2 separate regions of the Homo sapiens genome follow, and region 1 is linked to region 2. The links come from fine-mapping of genetic effects on gene expression. Tissue or cell type: whole blood. Region 2 holds a variant in brackets; the other region holds the start of a gene. All regions are shown on one strand. Distances are from middle to middle. Region 1 holds the start of PLCB3 (phospholipase C beta 3). Region 2 overlaps MACROD1 (mono-ADP ribosylhydrolase 1).

Region 1 (5,363 bases), 150 kb before region 2:
TTGGGGTCCACACGCAGGGTCACCAGGTTCCGACTGGAGGTCTCCTGAGGACAGCACAGGGCAGCAGGGGTCAGGAAGTGAGGGCTGTGGTGCAGGCCTGGCCCCTGGGGCCCTCCCATCATGCACCCCAGAGTTCCTGCCCATGAGCTAAGACGAAACCTCATCCAGTCCACAGGTCCTGTGTGGCTGCCTGTGGCCCTCAGAACAAAGCCAAGGTCCTAGGTGTGACATTTAGTGTCACACCTACCTCAAAGCCTCTTCCCAGCCTCACCTCCCTCTGGCCCTAGGATTCTACCTGACCTTTCCCAGGGCTTTGTCTCATGTTCCCTTTGCCAGGACACCCTGCCCTTCCTTCTCCACCCGTGAAATCTGACCCACCCCCTGGAAGAGGTCCCCAGCCCCCATCCTGGGCTCAGTTTCCCCAGAAGTGCTGAGAGCTCTGTGACAGTGGCAGCCCCCCAATCCACCCCACTGCAGAATGTTTAAGGCATGAAAGTGAGAAGTCTGACTCCCACTGCCCTTCTGCATCCCTTGGGACATCACGATAGCCCTGTGGTCTGCCTCAAAGCCCATTATCCACCTTACCACATCTGCCGGGGTCCTCACAGCCTCAAAGCTCATCCCCATCTCGTAGAAGAACAGTCCCCCTAGAAGGGGACTTGCCCTACTCTCAGGACTGGGCAGTGAGCTCTTCCTCCCTCAAACAGCCGTGCAGCTGGCAGGGGGCAGGGAAGTGCATGCCAGCCCCATTTTCTAAGAAGGGCCCGGTCCCTGGCACACTACCAGGGCCACCCTGTGTGACTCAGGACCAGCAGCCAGAGGGGCTGTCCTCCAGGGCTTAGACTCGGCCAGGGCCAGAGTGAACAAGTGGCTACAGGTAGAACCCTCCTATTCCAGGTTCTTCCAGACAGAAAAGGACCCCACCTCATGTTGGGTGCCACCCCCAAAATGCATCTCAGTGTCTGGTGGACAATACTATTATTATCAATACATCTCATATACGCACACCGCCCCTACTGCGCACCAGGTACAGTTCTATGCACCTAGCATCTTCGAGCACACAAAGGCCTCCTAACCAGCCTAAGAGGCATGTGCTGTTGTCACTCCCATTTTACAGATGAGGACACTGAGTTACAGGGACACTTCGTAGCCTGCCCGAGATCACTGGAGCCAGGACCTGCTTGCAGGCAGTGTGGTTGCAGCGTCCTGTGACCTGGGAAGCAGGGAGCGGAGACTTCTGCCAGGCTCCCGGCTCCTGGCCTCAGCCACACCCCATTGTGGGGCCTGGGATAACTCTCTGCTTTCCAGACCTCAGTTTCCTCTTCTGGAGAATGGGGATTGCACCAGCCCCACCCATGGCAGGCTTTGCTTACAAAAGATGGGCGTTCATCTGGGAACAGAAGGCCCCCAAAATTTGGGGATGCATGGGCCTCCCCACTTCAGTGTGCTGACACCCAGCCCCAGCACTTCTCCGGATTCCCAACCCTACCCTGGGCCTGAGGCCCCCGAATGGTGTGCAGAGCGGGGAGTCTATGGGTACTGCCCCTAGTGTTTCCCTCCCACCTCTCCCCAGGGGTCTGGACCTCAAAGGCAGCCCAGGTCCCCTGCTCTCCTGCCCCAAGCCTCCGTCAGCACCCCCCACCCCACCCCCAGGGCCCTCTCCCTGTTCCCACTTCCTTATTTGGGTTTATCACAGTGGAATGAAAAGAAGAAACTTTTCCCTTCAGGCCAGCCTGGGGGGAGGGGTCTCCCCCGGCCCCTGGGGCCCCCAGGCACCCCACCTCGCACACCTGCCGCTTCAGGCCACGCCCCCATCTCCTCCCCCCAGCTCCCACGCCTACCCCGGGGCCCCACCCAGCCGGAAAAGAGCCCAGAGTCTTCCAGGCCCGTGGCCTGACTGGGAAGGAGCTGCGAGGAAGCTCAGGCCGGCCGGGTGGAGGCCCTAGGGAAGGAAGGGCCCAGGGGGCAGAAGAGGATGCACCCAGGATGGGGATGGGCAGCCGAAGGTGGGGACACAGGCATTTGGGAAGCACCAGGGGCAGGACAGGGAAAGGGGGGCCAGGATGTATTGGGGTTCAAGGTCCCAAGCCTAAGGAGTGGGGAGCAAAGTTCCCAGGGGTGGAGGAACTTGGGGGGCAAAGTCTCCACTAGGGGGTGACTGGGTGCTCCCATCTGAACAGGGAGCTGGGCTGGGATCCAGAAGCAGGGCGAAGGGGTGCCAACCAGAACAGGGGGAAAAATGATGAATGGACGAGGACTGTTCAGGCAGGGCACCGGGGAGAGTAGGGGCGCCCTGGCACACACCCAGAATGAGGATGCCCCCAGCCAGCCTGGAAGTCAGGGTCCTGCAGCCGGGGAGTCTAGTGCTGGGCAGGGGTCTGGGCACCAGGCCAGGATCGGGGAACGAGAATTAGTCTGGCAGGGAGCGGTGGGAAGAACGAATGGAAAACGGGGGGACGGGGTTTATTGGGGTTCAAAGTCTCTGCGCCAAGGAGTGGAGGCAAATTTTCCAGAGCTGAGGGACTGGGAGTTGGGGGGACAAAGTCTTCATTACGGAGACGATCGGGGACTTAAGTTTCCGGGGCGCCGCCAGACTGGGATGAGGGTGGCGCCACGGGCAGGCGAGGCTGGGGTGGGGGTCCCCAGCGTCTGGTCGAGCTTGACTGAAAGAGTCCCGGGATTTGGGCGGAGCAGGGGCCCGCGCGCTTACCTCGTCCCATTTGATGAACTTACTCCCGCGCCGCAGGGTCTCCACCACGGTGGGCGGCTCCAACTGCAGCGCGTGGACGCCGGGCTGGGCGCCCGCCATGGCCCGGCCAGGGGCGGGTCGGGGACCCACGGAGCCCTGACGGGGACCGACGGCGCCGCTGCTCCCACCGCGCGGCCCGCTCCGGCCCCGCGGCGTCAGTGCCCGCCCGCCCGCCAGTCTGTCCCGGACCGACCAGAGCCTCGGCGGGGCCCGGGCGGGGCGGGGACGGGGCGGGGCCTCCCGGGCCCCGCCCCCTCCCACCGCGTCGGCTCCCCCTGGCGGCCGGGGCGGCGACTGCAGCCGGAGCGGGGATTGGGGCAGGGGCACGCGGACGGGTCGGGGGCTTTGCTGCGGGGCTCAGCAGAACCTGATTCTTCAGGCCTGTGGTGGAAGGAGGGCGCTGGGGGCCGAAGTGGCTGTTGGGGAGCAGCTGGAGGGACTGGGTGTAGAGGGCGCTGCTTAAGGCGGTCCGGGATCAGCCCACTGAGGTTTCCGAGCGACTAGGGCTGCAGTACCAGCGGAGGGCTAGACTTGGGCCGGGGGGTCGCTGCACAGCCCTGTCGCCCACCCTCTTCTGCCGCACTTAGCTGAATGCAGGAAAAGCTTCTTCCGCCCCCCTCTGCCCTGGCTTCGCCTCACCCACTCTTATGCCGCGCGGTCCCCCCTCCCTGGGAGCACTTAGCCGGCTAATGGACCTCCCGCCGGCAGGCACCCCTCCCCCGTCCCTAGCCCAGGGAGGCCGGGCGCCTGCCACCTCCTTTAAGGACCCAAGCATCCTGGTCTTCGAGAGTGAGCCCTAGAACAGCCCCCTTCTTGTTGCTGCAGACTCCCATGACTGGAACCTGACTGTGAGCCTCTTGGCTGGGAACCGCGGGGGGAACGCTGTTGTCTGCCCAGAGGGGTCAGAAGCTTTGTGGATGTCCCCAGACAGGAGGGTTGAGGAGGGGCTCTGCAGTGCCTGGCCCACAGCAGGTGCCCTGAAATCTGCGTTCCAGAGATGGGAGCGGGGAAGGCGCATGGGCAATGGGATGGGTGGGGGCTGCAGCCCCTCCCGCAGGGCTTAGCTGGTGGGGGGGGTTCCTGCCTGGGGGCCCCTGTGGGAGCCCCCCCAATACAGAGGCAGTAACAGCAGCAGGTTTAAAGTAGAACTCATCCAGAGGGGCCAGCCAAGTCACCTAGAAACCCAGAAAGAGATGCAGCTGGCTCTGGGGGAGGAGGGGTCAGCAAAGGAGGAGCTCCCCTGCAGGCCCCTTTGCCCCAGGCTCTGAGACCTCCACAAGGAGCCCTGCCTGGCCCTGGCCTTCCTCCACACCCCGCCAAGTTCTCCATCAACTCTAACCTGGCGGATCTCCTCGCTCTCAGCCCTGGCCCTGTGGGGTGTGATTATGATCTCCACTTGAGGCCCAGAGAGGGGAAGGGACTTGCCCAAGGTCACACAGCTTCTTAGGAGGATTTCAACCCTCCGACTTCCTGAGGCCCAGGAGCCTCTAGACCTCATTGGGAAAACAGAACCATGCAAGGTGGAGCTTGGCCTCTGCCCTCACAGGCTGGAGTTCAAATCCGGCTCTTGCTAGCAGCCTCTTGCTAGTGGCAGAACCTAGTCTCTCTAGGTGCCTCAGTCACCTTGTCCAGAACCTAAAGGTTGTTGTATACATAAGCAAATGGGTGGGAGATGCCAAATTGACATGAGTAGCTGGAAGCTGTGGGTATACCAGGGAGGGAGGAAAGGGCATAGGTCAGCTCTGGGGCAGTGGAACCTCCAGCTTGTGCCAGGGCTAGCAAAGCCTGGAGCCAAGGCCTGAGCTTAGGGGATCTGAGCTGTGGGCCCTAGGCCTTGTGCAAGCGTACTTTAGAGAAGCATTGGGCAGCAGCTCCTTGTGGAAAAAAACAGGATGGGCACCTGTTTCCTGGGCTTAAGCCTCTCTCCTCCCCCAACCCTGTGTCTCTGGAGGCCAGGGCAGCCCCCATTACAGGGCTCCTTCCTTCCCAGACACTTTCTTCCATCCTTGGTAATGGTAATAGGGTATCTCAGCAGGCAGTAATGGTGAAGGCAGGCAGCCTTTCCGGACTCTACCCTTGATTGAAGGAGCGGTCTTGACCCACAGGACCCTCCCCAGAGCCTCTGCTTCAAGGATGCACTCTAATGGAGGGGGGCTGGGGCCCTGGAAGGGGTAGGGCTGGGGAGGCCACAGACTGAGGCTAGAAGGAGGAGGAGCAGTGGTACACTCCAGTCCCAGTAGGGCTCAGGCAGGAGGGCCAGGGCTGGGCATGGGCCCCCAACCACAGGAGGTCAGGACCATAAGCCCCCTGAAGAGGCTCTGAGCAGGTAAGTGACTTGCATACAGCCTCTCAGCCCATGGGGCAGAGCCAGGATTTGAACCCAGTATTTCTACTCCAAGGCTAAGGTTCTGTGGCCCAGCTTCCAAGAAGGTGGCAGGCCAGCATGCCCACCTGCACCAAGTGGTCTCGGGTGGATAGCCATGGGAACTGGACAGGAATCTGGGTGTGCCTGGGCATGGCGCGGTGGGGGGAAGAGGGAGAGTCAGAAAGAATGCCTGACCTGTGGACACGGACATGGCTGGAGACCTTCACACCAACCCTGAGGGAGGACAGA
Region 2 (5,363 bases):
GCTCCAACTGGGCCGCCATGGCCTGGGCTTCCAGAACAAGCACTGCCTTTCCCCACCATGGGAAGCAGGACCATCAGGGAACTGGGGAAGTTGGGTCTCCGTGTTTCTGGCCTCTGTCTGGTGCCCACCCCACTTCCTAGGTGGGGGGTCAGTCCTCAACACCCGCAGCCGCCCTCCTCTTCCACACAGACGGAGGGCAGGGCAGGCTGTTCTGGAATCCAAAACAAAACCCCGAGCCCTCCCCAGCACCTCTCATTAGTGCGGCATGTGGAAGGGCCGCGGCGCCCTGGTGTCTGTATTCCCCCTGCAGGAACCCCTCTTTGGAAAAGGGCTTTTATTACACATCTGAGAGTGCTCACTCTGGTTTGAAATCAGATCCAGATGGGCTCAGCTGCATCTGGGCACTTTTCTTTGTAGGGCCTAAGGTGGCTGATTTGAGAAATGCTTGTTGTCAGAGGCCGTTACAAATAAAAACAGGGATATTAGGGTTCATGTTTTAATAAGCCCAGCACCCAGATGGGGGGTGGCTGCCCACGGGGCTCACAGCCTGGCAGGGAAGGCATTTGGGAAGGGTGTGTGCCAGCCAGGTGGTGTGCAGGCTGAGTCTGATGGGGTGGACAGGGTGGCAGGGGGAGTTTTCTTGGGACAAGCTGCCCTAGGAAGAAGGAGGTTTCAGAGCCAGCAAGCCCCACGGGACATCGATTCTGAATGGCCAGTGCCTGGTGAATACTACAGGTGGGGCACAGGCCCTGGAAGGGGTACGGTGGGGCTTACGCAGGAGGGAAGATGAGGACAGAGTCCCTGCACGCGGCGGGAGGGCGGCCGGCTCTAGCACGAGCCCTTATTGCTATTACCACCCGCGTGATTTCATCCAATTATAAATTGTAATTTCTCCATGAAAGCGAGAGATGGAAAAAGTCCAGTGAGGTCATCCGCCTCCCTGGCCGGGGCGCAGAAATTGTTTTATACCGATGGGGGTGGGGCAGGGGCAGCGGGCCTTGGCATTTTGAGAGGATGATTGCCGTGTCCTGGGAGCCCAGAGGCTCCAGTCAGCTGTGGCCGCTGCCTCCCGATAAAGAGAGAAACCACTGAGCTCTGCTTTTGAAATTAAGAACCCAAAAAGGAGGCAGGTTCATCCCACTGGTGTGTTCACCTCAGACCCTTCCCATAGCTTCTCGGCTTTATCCTGAGAGCGTCCCATAGCTCTCAGGATAGAGGCAGTGCTCCTACAGTAGTCTCCAAGGGCCCTGCCCAGCCCACCAGCCGTGTCTCCCACTACTGCCCACTAATGCCCTGAGCTGGCTCCAGCCTGGCCCTTCACTGTACTGTTCCCCTTCTGTAAGAATCCATGCAGACGTCATCCCTCCCTCCCTGCAATGGGCCACCCTCTGCTTGGCTTGTGTGGTCCTGTGAACCATGACAGCAACAACGGAGCATGAAAAGAATTGTCTCCCTGGCTTCAAGGGAGGACCTGAGGCTGGATCCCCCAGCACCTGGCTCAGTGCCTTGCATGCAGTTGGTGCTTAATAAATGCACCCACCAAACTCTCCATCTGCTCCCTCATTTAGAAAACCAAGGCACTAAGTGAGGCTCTTGGTGCCCGTCCAGCTTTGTATGTCCTCAGTCCACCTTCCCTGCTGCAGCCCCCACCCCCACCTTCCCTGGGGCCTGCAGAGCCTCCTGGAACCCCAGTGCTGGGATACTGGGCTCCTCAGCGTCTGTGCCCTGGATAAGTGGGGCCTCTCAGGCTTCTGGGGTGTGTATTGGTTTTCCAAGTGAGTCTGGCTGGCAGTGGTTGGGAGGTGTGAGCTCTCCAGCAGCACTGTGGCTCTTCCCTTGTGTGGGCGCATAATGATGATCATTAGTAGCCACCTGCATTCACTGAACCAAAGGAGGCCCAAGAATAAATATGTAAATGCGTGCGCCTGGCAGACACCTCCCGCCAGAGCCACAGCACCCCCAGTGGCCACCCTTCTGGCTCGAGTGAGTGGAGACCATGCCGTGTGAAGTTAG[T/C]GGTTACACTCCTCGCCTTGGCCTCCCCCGTTCCCACAGGCTCCAGGTCTGGTCTCTGTGCTCAAAACCAATAAACCATTTTTTGAGTCAACATCATAAAAGCTTCCATTTTGAGTAAAAGTACTTTGAGATGCTTACACAATTTTCTACTTTTGTTGTCGTCAATCACATCACAACTGTATTAAAAGAAATTTGAAAGGAGGGAAAGAAAGCCAAGTGCCCAATCTCACATCTCTGCACCACCCTCTGCGTTTTGGCCGAATCTGCCCATACATATATGCCAGGGGACAATGCACCTTGTCCTTTCCCAGTAATTTCTGCCTTGCCATCTTCCCTGAGCTTGGGAAGACAGCATGGCTAGCAGGTCAGGGAGGACCACTTTCATTGTGTGGACTGAGAAGAGGGAGCAGGACTTGTGCAGGGTTATACAACCTGTAGCAGTGTCAGGGCCTCAAACTCCAGGCCAGTTTCCTTCTTGCTGCACTACTCCAAGACAGCGCAAGAGAAACGGACCATCCACCAAACACTGCACTGAGGGGTCCTGGGCTTCTCCTGAGGCTCTCTTGTGCACCCCTCCATCCATCCATCCCTCCATCCTTCCATCTCTCCCTCCATTTCTCGATCCCTCCATCTCACCATTTCTCTATTCATTCATCCATCCATCCATCCATCTATCCATTCACCTCTCCATCCGTCCATCCTTCCTTCTCATTTCTCCATTCACCTATCCATCTCTCCATCTGTCAACCCATCCATTCATCTCTCCATCCATCCTTCCATCTATCTCTCCATCCTTCCAACTCTTCATCCATCCATCCCTCCATCAATCTATCCACTCATCTCTCCATCCATCCTCCTATCTCTCCATCCATCCATCCTTCCATCTCTGTATTCATCCTTCCATCCGTCTCTCCATCAGTCCATCTATTCACCTCTATCCATCCATCCATCTCTCCATCTTTTCATCCATCCATCCATTTCTCCATCTATCCGTCTGTCCATTCATCCATCCGTCTCTCCATTCATCCATTTCTCTCCACCTATCCATTTCTCCATCTTTCCATCTACCCATCTCTCCATCCAGCAAACATATTCTGAGTCTAATCATGCTCCAGGCATTGTACAAGACATTGGGGATCCAAAGAGATGCCCTCATCCTCCAGGAGCTCACAGTCCAGTGGGGAGGGCATTGGTTTTCAGAGGGCTACAATGTGAGACGCACACAGGGCAGTGTGGGAGCCAAGAGCCCCGCCTTGCCCAGCCTTCGGGGAGTGGGGTGGATCATGGAGGCTTCTTGGAGAAGATGACGCTGTGCTGTGGTTCTGGGGTACTCTCATGTTATGACAGTCACATGTGAGCTCAGTGGCAATCCAGAGGGAGGCAGGTCTGGCTGTGTTTCCCCTTGACCACCTGCCTATCTTCTAGAGCCACTGCCCACCCTTGGCACTCAGGGCTTCCTCCCGAAGTAGAAACGATCCTCAGGCCCTCAGCTTTACAGTTCATAGCTGCCTTAAAGATCGGAGCTCTCTGATATTAATTCCTATATTAGCAATTAGCCCTCCTGTTTCATTTCAACCTTTGGCTCTTTGGGATGGATTTTTATGTATGTGTCATTAATCAGATGGCTGGTATGTGCTGCTAGAAACCCAGGTGGGCTTTATGGCTGGTGACTTAGCGAAGTGGTGTTTTAAATGAACAACATGCCTGCCCCCTCCCTGGGAAGAGCTGCCCTGTGGCAAAGAGGGCAGAGTTTAGATCATTGTAAGCAGGTCAGAGCTGGTGCGAGCTAGGAGACCCAGGATTTTCTTTCATTTTGGACTTCCAGGCTGAGGTCAGCATCTGTATCTGACCTTTATAGATGAAAAGGCTCTTTGTGACTCAAACTGGAGTTTGTTCCATGGCTCTGACTTCCCCCTACCAGGATGGCCATCCACAGAGCCTGTTCCTTTCTTTCCCATTGCAGAGAGCAGTCTGGGGGCTGCTTATTCCCTCTCTCCCGAGGGCACTGGAGACAGAAGGCTGGGGGCAGGGAGAGCATTGCCGTGTGGGGGCTAGGACCGCTCCAGTAATGGGCTCAGCATGTTGGGAGTGGGACGGGAAGAACATTTCAGGCTGAGGGAACAGCCTATGTGAAGACTGGAGGTGGGAGGGCTTGGTATAGTGAGAGGTCAGTGTCCCAGAGCTCTGAGTGAGTGGAGGGCCGTGATCCGAGCTGAAGCAGGGCCCGGAGCCTGGCCTTAGGGGCGCTCTGAATGCTGCACTGAGGGGCCTGGTCTTTGTACAAGGGCAGGGGGGAGGCTGTGAGGGTGCCGAGGCATGGAGGAGCGTGACCAGACTTGCAGTTTAGAAAGAGTGTTCTCGCTGCTGCATGGAGACCTGGAAGGTGCCCAGGTGCACAGGAGAGGACCAGTGAAAAGCTGGGACCATGTCCTCAGGAACAGGGACAGGGACATGGGGTAGGGACCTCATACAGTGAGGGGTTGAAGGGAAGGGGCCAACTTGGGAGGCCCCCAGGTTTTACTCCCTGAAGACAGGCCTGGGTGCTGAGTGGGTTCCCGCCTCCTTCTCCTCACTGGAGGGCAGCTGAGTGCTCCCAGGAGCACCACCAAGAGAGCCATGGACAGCCGGCTTGCTATGGGCTCCAAGCCTGGTCCTGATCTGCAGCCTGCAGCCCCAGGCCTGAGCAGGAGCAGGAAGGCCTCTGGAGGCTGTGCCTTCTGCCCTGTGAGATGGGCCCACCCCATTCCCTGCCCACTCGCTCCGGGCCCCCAGGCTTGGCACCGCTGCATGGCACCCGAGTAGCAGGGTGAGAAGAGGCGGAGGCGAGAGCCTGCTTGTGTGGTGCGAACCCTCCCAGCCTCCGCTCTGCTAATTAAACCATCTCCTGACAAAACCCAGACTTTCAGGGTATTTGCGAGAGTGTGCGAGCCAGGCCGTGGGTGGCTTCAGGAGTCTGTGCCGCCCGGCCGGCGGGCCTGGGCCTTTGCCAGCGCCCACCCTCAAGATGGCCATCAGAGAAACTCAGCAGGCAGCGCCCAGAGCAGGGCACTTCAGGGGTGCGGGGCCCACTCGCCCAGGACGGAGCTTCTCTTGCCACGGGACATCTCCCCTTCTTTATTTTCTTCCTTCCTTCCCTTCACATGTGGGCAGCTCTGGCCAGAGGTGGCCTGGGAGTTCACCCATCCCTTGGTGCTGAGTTGGCAGAGAAGCCCAAATTGGGCGCAGACCGTAGCCACCTGCCCCTCCCTACCTGCCCCACTGGACCCAGCAGTCCCTCCCTGTACTTTCTGGGGGGTCTGGAGGCCCAGTTCTGCCAGGCTCAGGATGCTGCAGAGGGGGAGGGTTCCCTA

Evidence for each region. PIP is the estimated chance that this variant, and not a neighbour inherited with it, causes the effect. A credible set is the group of variants that fine-mapping cannot tell apart.
Region 1: PLCB3 starts here. The variant in region 2 is the best candidate, but not a certain one, in a credible set for the expression of PLCB3 in whole blood (INTERVAL, PIP 0.86).

The regions. Positions count from the first base shown.
Region 1 is chr11:64,249,096-64,254,458 of GRCh38, reverse strand. PLCB3 (phospholipase C beta 3) reads right to left here and starts at 2,929. Exons shown (of 31, transcript NM_000932.5): 1 at 2,711-2,929; 2 at 1-44. The coding sequence starts at 2,809. RefSeq lists silencers at 1,947-2,160, 2,648-3,117 and enhancers at 1,550-2,196, 2,197-2,842, 4,137-4,784, 4,785-5,363.
Region 2 is chr11:64,097,150-64,102,512 of GRCh38, reverse strand. The region is part of intron 3 of MACROD1 (mono-ADP ribosylhydrolase 1); the gene reads left to right. The region is part of intron 1 of FLRT1 (fibronectin leucine rich transmembrane protein 1); the gene reads right to left. Among named protein-coding and RNA genes, the nearest start is that of FLRT1, 64 kb to the right of the region's middle. The variant T/C (reference allele first, on the strand shown) is at 2,014.